Regions from separate parts of the Homo sapiens genome. Here region 2 is linked to region 1. The links come from fine-mapping of genetic effects on gene expression. Tissue or cell type: anterior cingulate cortex. Region 1 holds a variant in brackets; the other region holds the start of a gene. All regions are shown on one strand. Distances are from middle to middle.

Region 1 (8,103 bases):
AGCGGCAGGAACCCCAGAGCCAAGGGTGGAGGCTGCGATAGGAGAGAAGTCAGGCTGGTTCATCTGAAGGCCTCCCTTCCGGGGCAGCAGTTCACCAAACAGACACAAATGGCTCCCCAGCTTCCCACAGGGAAGGCAGGTAGGCACCTGGCATGTGCGGGGACGAGGCAATGACACCTCTCAGGGTTTCCGAGTGTTGGCAGAAGTGACCCGGATGTTTGGTATGCAGAGCTGGCCCCTGGGGAGAAGCCAAGTCACTTCCTGAGGTTTTGGGGAGACAAGGTGTTGACACCCAGGCCCAACCCTGGGGGCACAAGAATCAAAGACACAGAGATCCATGGAGGTGGCCCTGGGGGTCCAGTACAATGGGATGGTGGAGAGGGGCCCCAGAACTCCTGCAGCCTCAAGGGGAGGGGCAGGTGGGTGACCTGGTTTAAGACCAGGCCTGAAGGAAGGGTGGGGGGGCCGTGTTTGCTAATCCTGGAACCTTGGGAAAACCACCGACAAACGCAAATCTGAGAAGCTGTGAGCAATGGGTGACTCGTCGACAGAACCGCATGGGTGAGGGACTGCATTTATGTCTCAAGCTGTGTAAATGGTCATCCCAGCAACAGGTCAGAACTCACCCCATTCCAGTCATGCCCCACAGTCTCCCCGAATTCTCCTGCACCTGGGCTCAGACCTGCAAGAGGCTAAGCCAGGCCTAAAGGGATGAAGGCCACCGTCCAGTGTTTGAGCCGCACCAGGGCAGCACGCAGTACCCAAGGCTGCCCCAGACGTGAGTGGGCTCCGCTGTCAGAGCCCCCAACAAATGACATGGCGCAGGAAGGGAGGGTGGGAGGCAGGGAGCAGCTTCGACAGGACCCCCCAAGGCAGCAGAGCTTCCGGCAGTGGAGCTCAGAGTTGAGACCGCCCAGCCCCTGGCTCCCCGGGGCCCAGTGTGGTGAGTTGGGATGAGGTGTTGCCCTTCCTGCGTTCCGGGCTCCCATGTGGCCTGTTCAGAAACCCTGGTGAAAAGAGCGGCCCTCGGTGGGGGCCCTGGCTGTGGGCGAGTGCTCCTCTGGAAGGAGACTCCGACACACTGCACATTGTGACAGAGGTGGCTGTAACCAAGGCGACCCCAGAACAACAGGCTGCAGATGCGGCTCAGTGTCTCTCCTACACAATAGCTGACCTGTGCTCTGCACACCCCGGCGTATTCAAAGCGATGAGCCCTCAGCCGCGGGTTAAAGTACTGGTGTCTTCTGTTCTTTACAGTCTCAGTGTGCCACATTGAGGTGTCACGCGCCACACTCCATGGCATCCACGCTACAGATGCCAAAGGCCACGGGAAAGCGAGTTCGCCATTCTGCTGAGGTGGGCAGGCTACTATTCCCCGGGACGTGGCTGACACCCCTCACCTGCCCCGATGTGCAGCTGAAGAGACCCCTCGTCCGGCCTTGGCCTCAGGGGAGGGACGATGTCCAGCAAGCTTCTGTCTGACCCTGTGTCTGCCACATCAACTGGAGCAGAGACAACTGGATACAGAAAATCCCATTCACCAAGGTGGGTGCCCTCAGGAGGAAGGGCCTGCGCACGCTGCAACGTTGGGGATGCATTCTGAGATCTAGCTGCATTCTCGGAGATAGAGCCACTGCCCCAACAATTTCAGCGGCACAGTCTGGAAGGGCTCCCCACAGATTCTTAATTTACCCTCTGCAGCTGACAAAACACAATCCCCACCCTCCACCAGAGGGGTCCACAACCTAACCCCAGAGCCTGGGAATGTCACCTACGACGGGTCCACAACCTAACCCCAGAGCCTGGGAATGTCACCTACGACGGGTCCACAACCTAACCCCAGAGCCTGGGAATGTCACCATACGACGGGTCCACAACCTAACCCCAGAGCCTGGGAATGTCACCGTATGAAGGGTCCACAACCTAACCCCAGAGCCTGGGAATGTCACCTACGACGGGTCCACAACCTAACCCCAGAGCCTGGAAATGTCACCATAAGAGGGGTCCACATCCTAACCCCAGAGCCTGGGAATGTTACCATAAGAGGGGTCCACAACCTAACCCCAGAGCCTGGGAATGTCACTGAACGAGGGGTCCACAACCTAACCCCAGAGCCTGGGAATGTCACCGAACGAGGGGTCCACAACCTAATCCCAGAGCCTGGGAATGTCACCGAACGAGGGGTCCGCAACCTAATCCCAGAGCCTGGGAATGTCACCGTTAAGAGGGGTCCACAACCTAACCCCAGAGCCTGGGAATGTCACCGAACAAGGGGTCCACAACCTAACCCCAGAGCCTGGGAATGTCACCGAACGAGGGGTCCACAACCTAATCCCAGAGCCTGGGAATGTCACCATACGAGGGGTCCATAACCTAACCCCAGAGCCTGGGAATGTCACCTACGACGGGTCCACAACCTAACCCCAGAGCCTGGGAATGTCACCACATGAGGGGTCCACAACCTAACCCCAGAGCCTGGGAATGTCACCGAACGAGGGGTCCACAACCTAATCCCAGAGCCTGGGAATGTCACCGTACGAGAGTCCCACAACCTAACCCCAGAGCCTGGGAATGTCACTTTACATGGCAAAAGGGACCTTTCTGATGTGGGTAAATTAAACGTCTGGAGGTGGGAGGTGATCCTGGATTAGCCACATGTATCCAGTGTGATCCCAAGGATCTTGACAGAGGGAGGCAGGAGCAGAGGAGGGGGAGGCACAGAGGCTGGGGTCAGGGGAACGGATTCGCACTGCAGGTTCAAGTGTTCATCCGCACTGACTATAATAGTCAATATAAAAATAAGCCTGGTAGATTACAGCAGCAGGCAATGAGTTAACGTTGGAACTACATCGAGAGCTCTCAGAAGTCACTAACAAAACAAACACTCCACTGGAGAAATCAGGAAAGAAGGTGGTTACAACATAAAGAAAAATGCAGATGGCCAGTTCACTTAGGAAGCCTCACCAATAACCAAAGCTACGCAGCTATGAATGACAACCAGGTGTGACTTCCTGTGCATCAGAGTCTGCAATGGC[G/A]TGGGAGAGGCGGCACTGCCGAGCCCCACCCATGGCTGGATAAATGGTTACGACCTTTCTGAAGGGCAGTTTCACGACGCGCATCAAATTTTTAAATGCGTCTCACCAAAAATAGCCGAGGCCGCCTGGAATAACAAGCTGGAGGGTTTACACGAGCCGGTCTCAGGCCTTGGCATAGGACGTGGCAGTTGCAATCGTACCGGCATGCAAATGGGATGACGGACAGAGCAGAGTCCAGAAACAGCCACGTCGCCCCTCCCGTGACTGACGGCAAAGGCGGCACCACAGCACTAGGGGAGAGGTTGGTCTTCCCACACGTGGAGCTGGGTAAATTACATATCCGTCTGGGGACAGTGGTCAGTCTCAACCCCTACTGCACTGCAGACACAGAAACAAGCAGAGAAGGACCACAGGCCCAAACACGAAAGTGAAAACAACAAATGTTCCAGGTAACACAGGAAACTACTTTCATGGCCTCGGGTTAGGCAGGATTCCTCCACCAAGACATAAAAGCACTGAATACAGAAGAGCTTGATAAACCGGACTGCACTGACGTTGAAAACTGCTGTCCACCAGCAGACACCATCGAAGTCAAAAGGGAAGACCCCGTGTAAGAGATATTTGCAATACGTATATCAAACAAATGACTCATACTCAAAATACACAAAAACTCCTTAAAAAATCAGTAAGAAAGAAAAGCAAACAGCACAACAGAAAAATGAGCAGAAGTCTTGAGTAGATTTTTTTAAAAGGATATTGATATCCAATAAACATAAAAAGGTCACCAACATCATTCAAGAAAAGCAAATAAAAAACAGAATGAGACAACATTAGCCACCAGAATGGCGGACCTGGAAAAGACGGGCCACACCCAATGCTGGACACTGGGCTTCTCACGCTCTGCCAAGGGGAGAGTGAACCAGTGCCCGCTCTGGAGAAGGCACCGGGCACCAGCTGTTCATGCTGAACATGCCCCTCGACCCAGCGACGCCATCCTGGGCAGATCCCACAAAGAAGGGCACAGTCAGGTTCACCAGCAGAAACGCGCTCACTAGAACATCCGGCAGCTCTGTTCTGCTGGCGTCTGGAAAAGGCATTCCATGGTGCTGGCCGTGTGCTGCTTCTTGACCTGAGGGGTGATTTCTTGGGTATGTTCGCTTTGTAAAAACTGTCATACCATACACACATATACGTGCTTTTCTGCAGGCATGTTATACTCCAATAACACGTTTGCTTTTAAAACATGGCTGGCAGGGGGATGCAGGGTGATGAGAAGTTTGGTCTGAGTAACCCTGAACCCCTAGCTCTAATTTGTTTCTCTGTGACTCTACAATTCTACCTGCTCCCCTCAGTAAATAAACACAGATCTGGATTAAACATCCAAAATAAATTTTAAAATGAGAAAAAAATGTGTAGACATTTAACAGAGCAATTCTACCTCTGAGAATTCATCCTACAGAGATAACCCAGCAAGAACACAGAAGATTCATTACAGCATTGTGAGAATGCAAACCCGAAGCCAGACGCACACCAGCAGGATGACAAACGTAGACTATTAAGCAGCCGTGAGAATGATGATACAGTCTGAGCTACTGGCACGGAAATATAGACATGGTAAATTTAAAAACTGAAGCTGCGAAACGGCACGGATAGCAGAACCCCATTTATATAAAATTGTGTGCACACACACACACACCTAGAGAAGCCCCGAAAGAAGTCACCACAATGTTGACACTGGTCATCTCTGAGGGATGGGATTTCAAACGATGTTTGGCTATGTGTGTGTGCATGTGTGTGCGTGTGTGTGTGTTATTTAAACAGCCTGCAGAGTAGGAATATCCTGGATCTACAGTGCACCAAGGAATGACCATGGGAAGAAAATGAACCTTGCTTCATTCACAATCAACCGTTTTTCCCTCATTCACAGCAAATCCTAGAGAAATAACAGCTGTGTGCCACAATCCCTACGAGAAAGTACCTGCCTCCAAGAGAAGCCACCCGCCTGCTTTCATCTCCCTCAAATATGGTTCTGAATCTGAGAAGCACAGGAAAGTGACTGTGTGTAATAGTCCGCAACTGGAAACAGCCAAATTATGGTTACAAGGACGAGTCAGCGGTGGCCTATTCATATAATGGAATATGGAATAGTGACGAGTAGCATCCAGCCGTGAACACTGCAATATCCCCTGGGAGACTCTCACCTGGGAGTCTCCCGGGTATATTGGCGATGCCTAGAGACGTATCTAGTTGTCAAACCTGGGGAGGGGCTGCTGGCATCAAGTGGGTAGAGGCCAGGGATGCTGCTCCACACCCTCCCTGCAATGCCCAGGCCAGCCCCACAGCCACAGTGCCCCAACACCAATGCATCTCAACACAGCAGAACCAGTTCCCTTGGAAGATTAAGCCCCAGAAACACAAGCCAACTTCAAAAGGCCAAAGTCTGGATTCCACTCTATGCCTGGGAACCTCCTCTGTTCCGGGGTGACATGGACGCTGGAGCTCCACACGGTCAGAAAGCGCTCCGGAGCTCGGCTCCACGCGGTCAGGAAGTGCTCTGGAGCTCACTCCCTTCCAATGCCCTGAGAGATCGGACAGACGATTGCTGACGTCAGTGGCAAAGGGCTGACGTCAGTGGCAAAGGACTCCCGCCCCCCCGCAGACATTAAAATGAGCCCTTTGGGAGAATAAGGGATTCCATCCAGCTCAGAAGGGCAGGAGTAATGAGGCCACCCAGCCCTCTGGAGGGCACCGGGAAAGGCTGGAAGCAGGGTCTGTGCCCTGAGACACAGTCCACTGAGACACAGTCCATGGCCCAGCCACACCCGCGGCTGCCCCGTTTGTCTGTAGAGTGCAGGCTCCCCAGCAGGGGAGAAGCACAGATGACACCTCACTGACCATTCCCACTTGCCCTCTGCAGCCTGAGGGCCCAGACACACTGATGGCACTGGCGCAATTGACATGAACCGGGCACAGTGACACAGTCACGTGTCCCAGGACCTCCGTGGGCTTCCGTGGTGCAGCCCTGGGGCATGTGGAGTGCCCAGCCTCACCCCCAGGCTTTACCAGGTGCCCCCTCAGAGCCTCCAGGATGGGCCTGCAACTCTGTCCCTCACACCCTGGGGAGCTTGCACCCCATTCTGTGCCAGCAAAAGAAGGTATCTCAGGCCAGGCACAGTGGCCCACGCCTGTAATCCCAGCACTTTGGGAGACGGAGGTGGATGGATCACTTGAGGCCAGGAGTTCGAGACCAGCCTGAACAACACGGTGAAACCCTGTCACTACTAAAATTACAAAAATTAGCAGGGAGCATGCCCGTAATCCCAGCTACTCAGGAGGCTGAGGCAGGAGAATTGCTTGAACCCAGGAGGTAGAAGTTGCAGTGAGCCGAGATCGTGCCATTGCACTCCAGCCCGGATGACAGAGCAAGACTCTGTATCAAAAAAAAAAAAAAAGAAAAGAAGGCATCTCAGCCTCGGGCCTCAAGACCTCAGCCCATGTTGGGAGAAAATTCCTGCAGCCTCCATGTCACGGTTCCCTGACAACGATGTGGGGGACAAATGTGTGACTCTCTTCTGAGTTCACCTCCTCCTCACGGCCCGTGACAGAGTGCCGCCAGGGGAAATCTTCCCATCAGACAAATCACTTTAACTTAGAAGAGCAGGCCCCCGCAACATCCTCAGAAATATAAAAGCAACCTTCAAAAGAAAAACCCCAAAACCCTAGAGAACGCTTGGCTAAGACAAGCCTTAATTACCATCCTCTTTCGGTATGATAAAAATTCCTCTCCACCTCTCTTCAAGACAGGATTCCTTATTCAAACACTTTCTTTTTTTAAAAATAACTGCAGTAACCAACCATTAAAACGGGGACTGCATTTTAATCCACGCTTTCTTTTTCTCTGGTTTTCAAACTGGCACCTTTCATACTTCACAGAAGACACAAACATGGCCTTCTACAAAACTTCCATCCACGGCATCAAGCCCCACAGGGCCTGTAATTCACTGGAGCCGGGAGGTGAGAAGTGCCTGCAGAGACGGTTCCCCCAGGCCACCATGCCGTCCCTGCCCTCGGGCCACAGCCAGCAGGCCTCAGGACCAGTGAGAAAATGGCCCGGAGAGCCCTGCCCGAGCTTCTCACACAGACACGCCTGCTGCATTGCTCCCTTCCCATTGCTCCCTTCTCGTGTCTGGGAGGCCTGAATGGTGCCTCAAGGAAAAGGAGTACAGTCTTGCATCACTTAATGACAAGGACACATTGTGAAAATGCATCATTAGGCGATTTCATCGTGCTGTGAACATCACAGAGGGGACTTACACAAAGCTAGACGACGCAGTCCACCACACACCTGGCTGTATGGAGTAGCCTATTGCTCCTAGGCTACAAACTGTGCCCACTACTGTACTGAATGCTGCCAGCGGCTGTAACACAATGGGAAGGATCTGTGCATTGAAATACATCAAAACATAGATGAGGTACAGGGAAAATCTGGTCTTACAGTCTGATGGGACCACTGTGGTATACGCAATCTATCACTGACCGGAACATGACTGAAATGTTTCCAAAACACACAGGATGCTCGGTTGGGTCTGCTGCAGCACCAGCCACACTGGAAACCCTGGTGGCTTTAGGGACCACTAGAAGCCACGCTCGACCTCCCCTCTGCCAGGAAAGCCAGCACACTGAGGAGCTAGCCATCAGGCACCAGCACCAGGCTCCAGCCCTCCATGTGGGCCTCTCTGACCCTGACGTCACAGAGAACCCCAGTGACCCGGCCAGCGGGGCTGCCTGCACCTGCTTCCTGCACAACTCCCCCCAGGCCGCTCTGCCGGGGGCAGGAAAGCACTGTCCCTCAGGGGTGGCTAATTCTAGGCTTTGCCTCTCCCAAAACCATTACTCGGATCATCCAGATGCTAACCCCAGATACATCATTCATCTCTCAGATCCGTTCTGTCTTCATCTGTGGTCGACAGCTCATCAGGTTGAATCTTCAGAAATGACTTAAATCCACACACCAGGGTCAGGAGCAGAAGGCGGCTAGCTGGGGACCATTCTGAGTTGTCTATTTGCA
Region 2 (8,103 bases), 74 kb after region 1:
TTCTCTAAGACAGTGCCTTGATCAGGAAATGTTGATTTCTACCCTAAATCCAGACTTGGAAGAACAAAGCTTCTATATGGAACAAAGACTGAGTTCAAACTGCTCCTTCAAGTTTAGATACAAAAATGCAAGTGCACATGTGCATGTGTGTGTACATATGTGTACGTGTGTGGATATGTGAGCTGTGTAAATAGGTGTACATGTGTGTGGATGTGGGATGTGTGTGAATGTGTGAGGGTGTGTGTGCATGTGTGTGCACACATGTGAGTATGTGAAGATGTGTGTGGACACGTGCATGCATATGAGTGTGTGTGGACGTGTGTGGGGTGTACGTGTGTGAGCATGTGTGTATGTATGTGCATGTGTGTAGAGATGTGCGAGCATGTGCAGATGTGTGTAGACACGTGGACTTTTGTGAATGTGTGTACGTGTATGCATGTGTGTAGAAATGTATGGATGTGTGTGGATGCATGTGGATGTGTGTAGTCTGTGACTGTGTGGTCATGTGTGTAGACACGTGGATATGTGTGGACATGTGTGAACATGTGTAAATACATGTATGTTGATGCACGTAGACATGTGTTGGCACATGTGGGTGTGGGTGTGTGCATGGATGTGTATATATGTGCATGTGTGTCTACACATGTGAATTGTGTGGACACATGTGTGGATGCATGTGGACACATGTTGATGCATGCAGGTGTGTGCATATGTGTGGATGCTTTTGCATGTGTATGCATGTGTGTCAACATGTCTGATGTGTATGGATGTGAGTGGTGTGTGGACATGTGATGTGTGTTGGCACATGTGGCCATATGTTGACACATGTAGACATCTGGTGTGTGTGTGTATGCATATGTGTCACCATGTGTGGATGTGTGTGATTTGTGTTGGTGCATGTGGGCATATGTTGACACATGTAGACATGTAGCATGGGGGGGCATGTGGACACATGTGCATGTGTGAGAATGCGTGTGGGCTCTGTATCATAAGCAGAAGTCCGGGGAGAACCCGCACAGCTTTTCTCCAACACTGAGCAGCAGTGAGGGCCATGCTGGGGCCTCGGGGGCCACCTGCCTGCTGCAGGAGCCGGGTGCACAGCTCTGCCTGACCGCCCTGCAGTTCGAGGGGCTACCCCTCTCCTCCTCTCAGTCCTCTCCCCTACTGGAGCCCAGCCCAAGCCATGAGGCCTGCATTCACGAGAAGCAAGGTGTCCAAGGTGGACACGTCCTCTCTTTAACGCAGCGCTGGGCATGTTTATTCGTTCCCAAGCCACAGGAGCCCTTGTTTCATTCAGCGATTTGGCTGAGGAGAGGGGAATGTGTGGAAACTCACAGCTTCCACACCTTTTTAAAAGGAGCTCCCTATGCATGTGGACGAAACAGAAGTGGCAGCGTCCCCACCCCCGAGTTGGTGAATGGAGGTGGTGGCGAGGCGACGATGCCTGGAACATCCTGGCATGGGGCTGCCGGGCAGCCGGAAAGGAGACAGAGGCTGAGGGCACAGCCCCTGGCCCTAGACCCCAGCAGGCTCCTGGTGCTCCATCCAGGAAAGGGGCTCTCCCTGGAGGCCTGGGTATCGCCCTGGGATCTGCCCACAGTGCTGGCCTGAGTCCATTTGTGGTTGATCATTAAAGGCTGGTTCCCAGCCAGGCCCAGTGGCTCACATCTGTAATCCCAACACTTTGGGAGGCCGAGGTGGTTGGATCACCCGAGGTCAGGAGATCGAGACCAGCCTGGCCAACATGGCAAAACCTTGTGTCTACTAAAAATACAAAAATTAGCCAGGCGTGGTGGCATGGGCCTGTAATCCCAGCTGCTTGGAAGGCTGAGGCACAAGAATCGCTTGAACCCGGGAGGCAGAGGTAGCAGAGAGCCGAGACTGAGATCTCACCACTCAACTCCAGCCTGGGTGACAGAGTGAGACTTTGTCTCAAAAAATAAAAACAAAAATAATTTTTTTAAAAAGGCTGATTTCCCATCAGAGACAGGCAGGGCCATACAATAGCGCTCGGGGGGGTGCCCAGCCAAGCTCTGGTGGGGCGGGGGCAGAGGCTGTGCTCACAACAGGCTTCCCAGCAGGGGTTCAGGCACTAGCAGGGTCTCCTCCCCACCTCCTGCAACTTCCAGCAGGGAGCAACAGCCCAGTGACTGCCTGCTGCTCCCAGAAAGCCTCGTCTTCCCATCCCTGCCCCTGGCTGACCAGAACGTGTGCCCACACTCTTAACAGCGAAGGGTGTGTGCCTCCCTGTCTTCCCGAGAGAAGCCCCGTCCTGATGCTTCCTGGTTGGGTGTCACAATGGCCAATGGAATGTGGCTCTGGGGCTGGAGCAAGGGTGGCCCTCTATCCCGAGTCCCACTCATCGGCTGCTCCAGGCTAAGCTGGTCAGCACTCTGAGGCTGGAGGTCCCGAGACCCTGCTATGGGCCAGAGCTCCAACTCCCCACCAGTGAATCTGCCCTGAAGACATGAGATGGGTGTGGTGGCTCACATCTGTAATCCCAGCACTCTGGGAGGCCAAGGCGGGCGGATCACCTGAAATCAGGAGTTCGAGACCAGCCTGGCCAACATAGTGAAACCCTGTCTCTACTAAAAATACAAAAAAAAAAAAAGCTGGGTGTAGTGGTGCACACCTGTGATCCCAGCTACTCAGGTGGCTGAGGCAGGAGAATTGCTTGAACCCGGGAGGCAGAGGTTGCGGCCACTGCACTCCAGCCTGGGCAACAGAGCAAGACTCCATCTCAAAAAGAAAAAAAGGAAGAAAGGAAGAAAGAGAGAAAGAGAGAAAGAAAGAGGCAGAAGGCATTCAAATGAAGATCATATTTCCTTAATCACAATGTTTCATATGACCCAGCTCAAGGGGCCCAGAACCACTTCTCCATCCACCGCTCAGCCGGTGAGGGGTAGCAGAGCTGCCCAGGGTCACAGTGTGTGGTGAGGCAGTGAGGTCGGGGACCAGGAGCCCAACAAGGGCCATTCGCTGATGCCTCAGAGATGAACAAGTGGGCTGTTCCTGAGATACCTGCACTAGGCAGGGGGAGAGCGGTGCTCAGAGTGAGAAGGAAACACTCTTACCTGGATGGTCCTGCGATCTGGAGTAGACGCCACGCACCTGCGCACAAAAGACCACAGTGTGAGACACACTCAGGGAAAGCCTCCGGAGAAACCAAGCCTGTCGCCATCCTGGCCACTTGGGGACATTACCTGAAAGTTGTAATAAAATAGCAGCAGCCAGGAGTACCAGCAGCACAGCCGCAGCAGCTTTTCCATGGCTCTCTCGGAGGTCAAAGCTCGGAGCCAAGTGAAATTCCTGAGGGTCTGTGAGAACGGGACCTCTTAACCTTCACTTCCTTGGAAAAGGGACATTTTCACAGGTTCCAGGGGAGAAAATTTCTGTCTCCTTAAAGTTTGTGAAACACAGCTGTCTTGGAGACCTAATGGGTGTTTCTTCCTCGTCTCAAAACTTGAGATTCTTCAGTGATCAATAAACACGTTGCGATGACCAGAGCAGCTGTGGAATGCAGGGAGGAGAAACCCAAACCCGACTCGCAGTCCTGGGAAAGCAATCCCAGGTCACCACTGTGACCGCGACCTGCGCCCGGGGACGGGAGGCTGTTTGTCCTGCGGTATTTTCTTTTTATTTCAAGAGCCTCCGTTTGTCTCAGTCAGGTTTGGAGCTTCCCTTTTCTCTGAAGAAGGTTTTGTGCGTGGTTTTCCCCTGGAGCGCCCGCCTGCTCCTCGGGCTTGTCCTGCGGCCGCTCTCGAGCTCCTTCTGGTCTGGCTCAAGTTCACACCTCCGTCCTGCTCTCTGGGTGGAGGGGGAGTGAGTGATGTAAGTCTCTCTCCTCAAACTTTGTTCTGTTCTCCTTTTCTATTTATATCCCCACTGCTGTGTCCTTCCTGGGTCCTAACTCCAGCCTCTTAACAACAGCTGAAATATTTCCAGGATCTCAGGCTCAGAATCAAACCAAACAGACATGGTGTGTGGTGTGTGTGCGTGTGCGTGTGTGTGTTACTGATGCCTTCTGGTCAGCACCTTCAAAGTCGGCATAAATATTAATAAATACAAAATGCAAAACAAACCATAAACTCTGTTTAGATCTGAGTCTTGTTTGCCCCCAAAAGAGAATGAAGTTGACAGAGGGATGGAAAAGAGAAAGCAGCACACCCACTGTGCCCTCCATATTAAGCGCTGACCACATTTTTCTCTCTAATCCTTTCGGACGTCAGTGAAAGCTACGGAATTAATTACAAGGTACGCTGCGCAATTACACCATCCCACATATACCCCCACCCCAGCACCAGGAGGATGTTCTCAATGGGATAGAAAAGAGTCAGCCCCTTCGCCAGACATGCCTCAGTTTACCCAAGACCAAAGTTTATCCGATCTACTCCAAATACACGTGGACACACAGAGACACACACCCTAGAATTGCAGTCACAGCTATATTTGCTATGTGATTTAAGTAATATTTACCGCTTCATACTTTCTCCAACATTCACCAGCTGTGCTCCTAGGCAAATTACTTGATCTCTCTTAGTTTTCGAATTCCTCATCCACAAAATGGGGGTTAATAGTTCCTCCTCCTCAGGGCTGTAACAATAAATTAGAGGACAGATCCAAGGCTCTTCAGGCAGTACTTGGAAAATATGTGGCACTCAGTAAATGCTGCTATTTTCTATTAAGAAAAATTATCACTCAGTAAATGTTAGCTATGATTATTATTAGCAAGTATAACATAACACCCAGTAAATGTTAGCTGATACAGTTATCTCAATTGTCCTGACTTTAAATGGGAATTAAGAATCCTGAATCCAACATACTTCCTAAAGAGGATAAGAAAATGACTTCCAATCTCTGTGGGACAGAAAAAAAGAAAGTGCTGTCAAAACGTTAGGTGATTATTTTTAACTTGTGCCTGCAGCCTACAACCGCTCAGATCCTCTGATAGCCTGAGCCTCTCTGTGGAGCTGGAGAAGGGTTCCAGAGAGTTCCATCTCCTAGCAATGGAGAAACTGTGAACTCCAAAGGCCGGGGGCTGTCTGTAATAACGACCTTTATCCTGTTGCTCAGGCTGGTCGGCTTCAGGGAAAACTAATTTACAACCTTTATCTCTGCCATTTCATCAGCTCTCCAGTCCCCCACTGCCTCTCGCTGGAAGAGGTGAAGGGAGGGACAGGCAGCTGCAGGTTTTTCTCAGCTCCAGTTTTAACCTGGAAGAATTCAACAGATTGCTGAATATGCGGACCTTTCCCATCTCCATGACCGAACAAAGCCAGCATGGTTTCTTTTCATCATAAAATTGTCATCAGATAATGGGAGACACCCCGATTCAATGACTGTAATAAAAACTAGATAGCAAAGCAATTCAGCAGAGCTTGCCCTGCAGGCATCTGCACTCATCCTCAGACTCACTCTGACTCTCCATCCCGGACTACAGTCTCGTGCCTCATGCTATTTGCCTGCGTCCTGTCTCAGGCCTTGTTCAGAGGCCCAGATGAAGAGCCCGCCTCCATGTAAAGCAGCGTGTCCTGAAGCCTGGAGATTTGAGACAGGGCCTTGAGTGGTCCATGGGCCTGGAACCAAGCAACTCTGATGTCTCTGAGCATCTCATTCCATCACCCAAACGTCGGGGTGTTCGGCACCCAAACATCACCTTGACAGCAGGTCTCCCTCCCCCTAAAGCCCTCCCCTGCTGTATTTTCTCGATCCCACTAACCACGATCCAATGTACTTCATATCTTAGACGTTTATTTCATTTATTGTCAGTCTCTCCCCACCGAGGCGTAGGCCCCATGAGAGCAGAGACCTTCTTTCTGCCTGTTCGCTCTGCACCCCAGCCCCGAGAACAGGGCTTGGTACTTGGTGAGCACTCAGCGTTTGTCACCAAACCCAGCCTGGCTCTGCCCTCCCGCAGCAAAGCCAAACATGGACGTCGGGATTGCAGTGAGAGGAAGTGAGGCATTTAGAGCAGGGCACCAGGCGAGCAGAACCTGGCAGCTCACACTTCAGACCTGAACTCCCCGATGGCTGATGGGGGAGGGTTTTTCAAGGTGGAGAGGCAGAGGTTACAGGCTAAGTCCCACATGAATAATACCTGGAGGCTGCACATTGGTTTGACCTAAAAAGCTAGGACATCTTGAACTGGGGGCCCACAGGTCATATAGGTAGTAGATTCAGAGGTTTTCTGATTTGTGATTGGTTAAGAAGGCAAGGCTTTGTCAAAAAATTTGAGATCAGCAAAAAAGAATGTTAGCTCTGGCCTGTGGGCATGACCTCCTCCAGGCCCCTCAGGAAGAAATTTAGAACAAAGAACAGTGGTGGGCCCGGAGGGGTGGATCCCAACACTTTGGGAGGCTGAGGCAGGTGGATCACCTGAGGTCAGGGGTTCGAGACCAGCCTGGCCAACATGGCGAAACCCCGTCTCTACTAAAAATACAAAAATTAGCCGGGTGTGGTGGTGCATACCTGTACTCAGGAGGATACTTGGGAGGCTGAGGCAAGAGAATCGCTTGAACCCAGGAGGCGGAGGTTGCAGTGAGCTGAGATTGAGCCACTGCACTCCAGCCTGGGCAACAGAGTGAGACTCTGTCTCAAAAAACAAAGAACAAAGAACGGTGGTGGAGTTCAGCTCTCCGCTCCCCCATATCAGAGGTCTGTAAGTCAACAGATCCATTTGGTGGGGGTCCAGGTTCTGAAAAACAACTCCGGGTCGTTTGTTACGATGTTGTCTTTAGTTTCTACAGGGAAGCAATGAATTCCTGACTCTAACTCTCTTGACTATTGTTTCTCGCCACTATTAACTTCTTGCTTCCCAAGTTGCTCATGTATTTCTCAGGGCTAGCTAGGTGGCTGGAATTCCCCTTCAAGGAACCCAAGATTTTATTGTATTTATTTATTTATTTTGAGATGGAGTCTCATTCTGTTGCCCAGGCTAGAGGGCAGTGGCACGATCTCAGCCCACCACAACCTCACTGAGCTCCCAGGTTCAAGCAATTCTCCTGCCTCAGCCTCCTGAGTAGCCAGGATTACAGGCACCCGCCACCACACCCGGCTAATTTTTTTGTATTTTTAGTAGAGGCGGAGTTTCACCATGTTGGCCAGGCTGGTCTCGAACTCCTGACCTCGTGATCCGCCCACCTCAGCCTCCCAAAGTGCTGGGATTACAGGTGTGAGCCACCGCGCCCGGCCCGATTTTCTTTTTTCTATGCTTGGGTGGGGAGTGCCCGGCAGGCAGCCTCACATTCAACATTCAAGTCATAGTTTTGGGCCACATGCATGTGTACTTTACTTAAAGAATGAAAAACATTGTTACGCTTTGGTAAAATATTTCAGACTTTACTGGGAGGATGCTAATTAAACATTAAAAATGAGACCTTACATTGTGATTAGGCTCCACTCAAAATTTTACAAGGACATAAAGTGTGACGCCAGCTACCAATGGGAACGTAACTGGATTATTTGCAAAGCTGATGCCCTGCGCACAACAGAGCATGTTTCCTGGTGCTGAGCAGCTCAGATGTCCCAGGAGGACAGATCGGGCCTGAACAAAGAATTCTGTGGAGTGGCCCAAATGCTGAGGGAGAGCTGGACAAGCTGTGAGCACAGGAGTTCCTGATGCCTGATTCACACCAATCCAAGGTGCGCCTCCCTCCAGCTCAGACCCTCCCATACGCCGGCATATTTGTGAGAGGCAGCAAGAGTTGTGTGTCCATCACGTTTACTCCTGTGTAGATAAGCAAGGCGGAGCAGCAGTTCGTAAGCAGTGTGCTAGGAGGGGTGTGCAGCACACAACGTACATGGAAATGAACGGTGTTAGAAGCCTGGGGGCGAATTCACTGTGAAAGTCACACGAAGGAGTTCAAGAATTCTTTCTCTGAGTGGTTAAGGGATGGGACATTCTGGAAAGAAGCTATGGAATGGGCTAAAGCTCCGATGCAGCATGCCATGGACCATGGGCGTGTGTTGTTTCTACCAGCCCAGCCTCCCCTCCGGCTCCTGTCGGCTTTCCTTTTGAAGGACGTTTCTTCCACCGACCCGTGAGCTCAGACGGGACTGTCAGAAGCTGCAGGTGTTGCGGGGGAGTTGTGACCCAGTGGGAAC

Evidence for each region. PIP is the estimated chance that this variant, and not a neighbour inherited with it, causes the effect.
Region 2: ADGRD1 starts here. The variant in region 1 is fine-mapped to the expression of ADGRD1 in anterior cingulate cortex (GTEx, PIP 0.93).

What each region holds. Positions count from the first base shown.
Region 1 is chr12:131,023,930-131,032,032 of GRCh38, reverse strand. All of the region lies in intron 13 of ADGRD1 (adhesion G protein-coupled receptor D1), which reads right to left. Among named protein-coding and RNA genes, the nearest start is that of ADGRD1-AS1, 34 kb to the right of the region's middle. RefSeq lists an enhancer at 3,198-3,699. The variant G/A (reference allele first, on the strand shown) is at 3,036.
Region 2 is chr12:130,949,632-130,957,734 of GRCh38, reverse strand. It overlaps ADGRD1 (adhesion G protein-coupled receptor D1), which reads right to left and starts at 3,828. Exons shown (of 25, transcript NM_198827.5): 1 at 3,204-3,828; 2 at 3,075-3,111. The coding sequence starts at 3,269.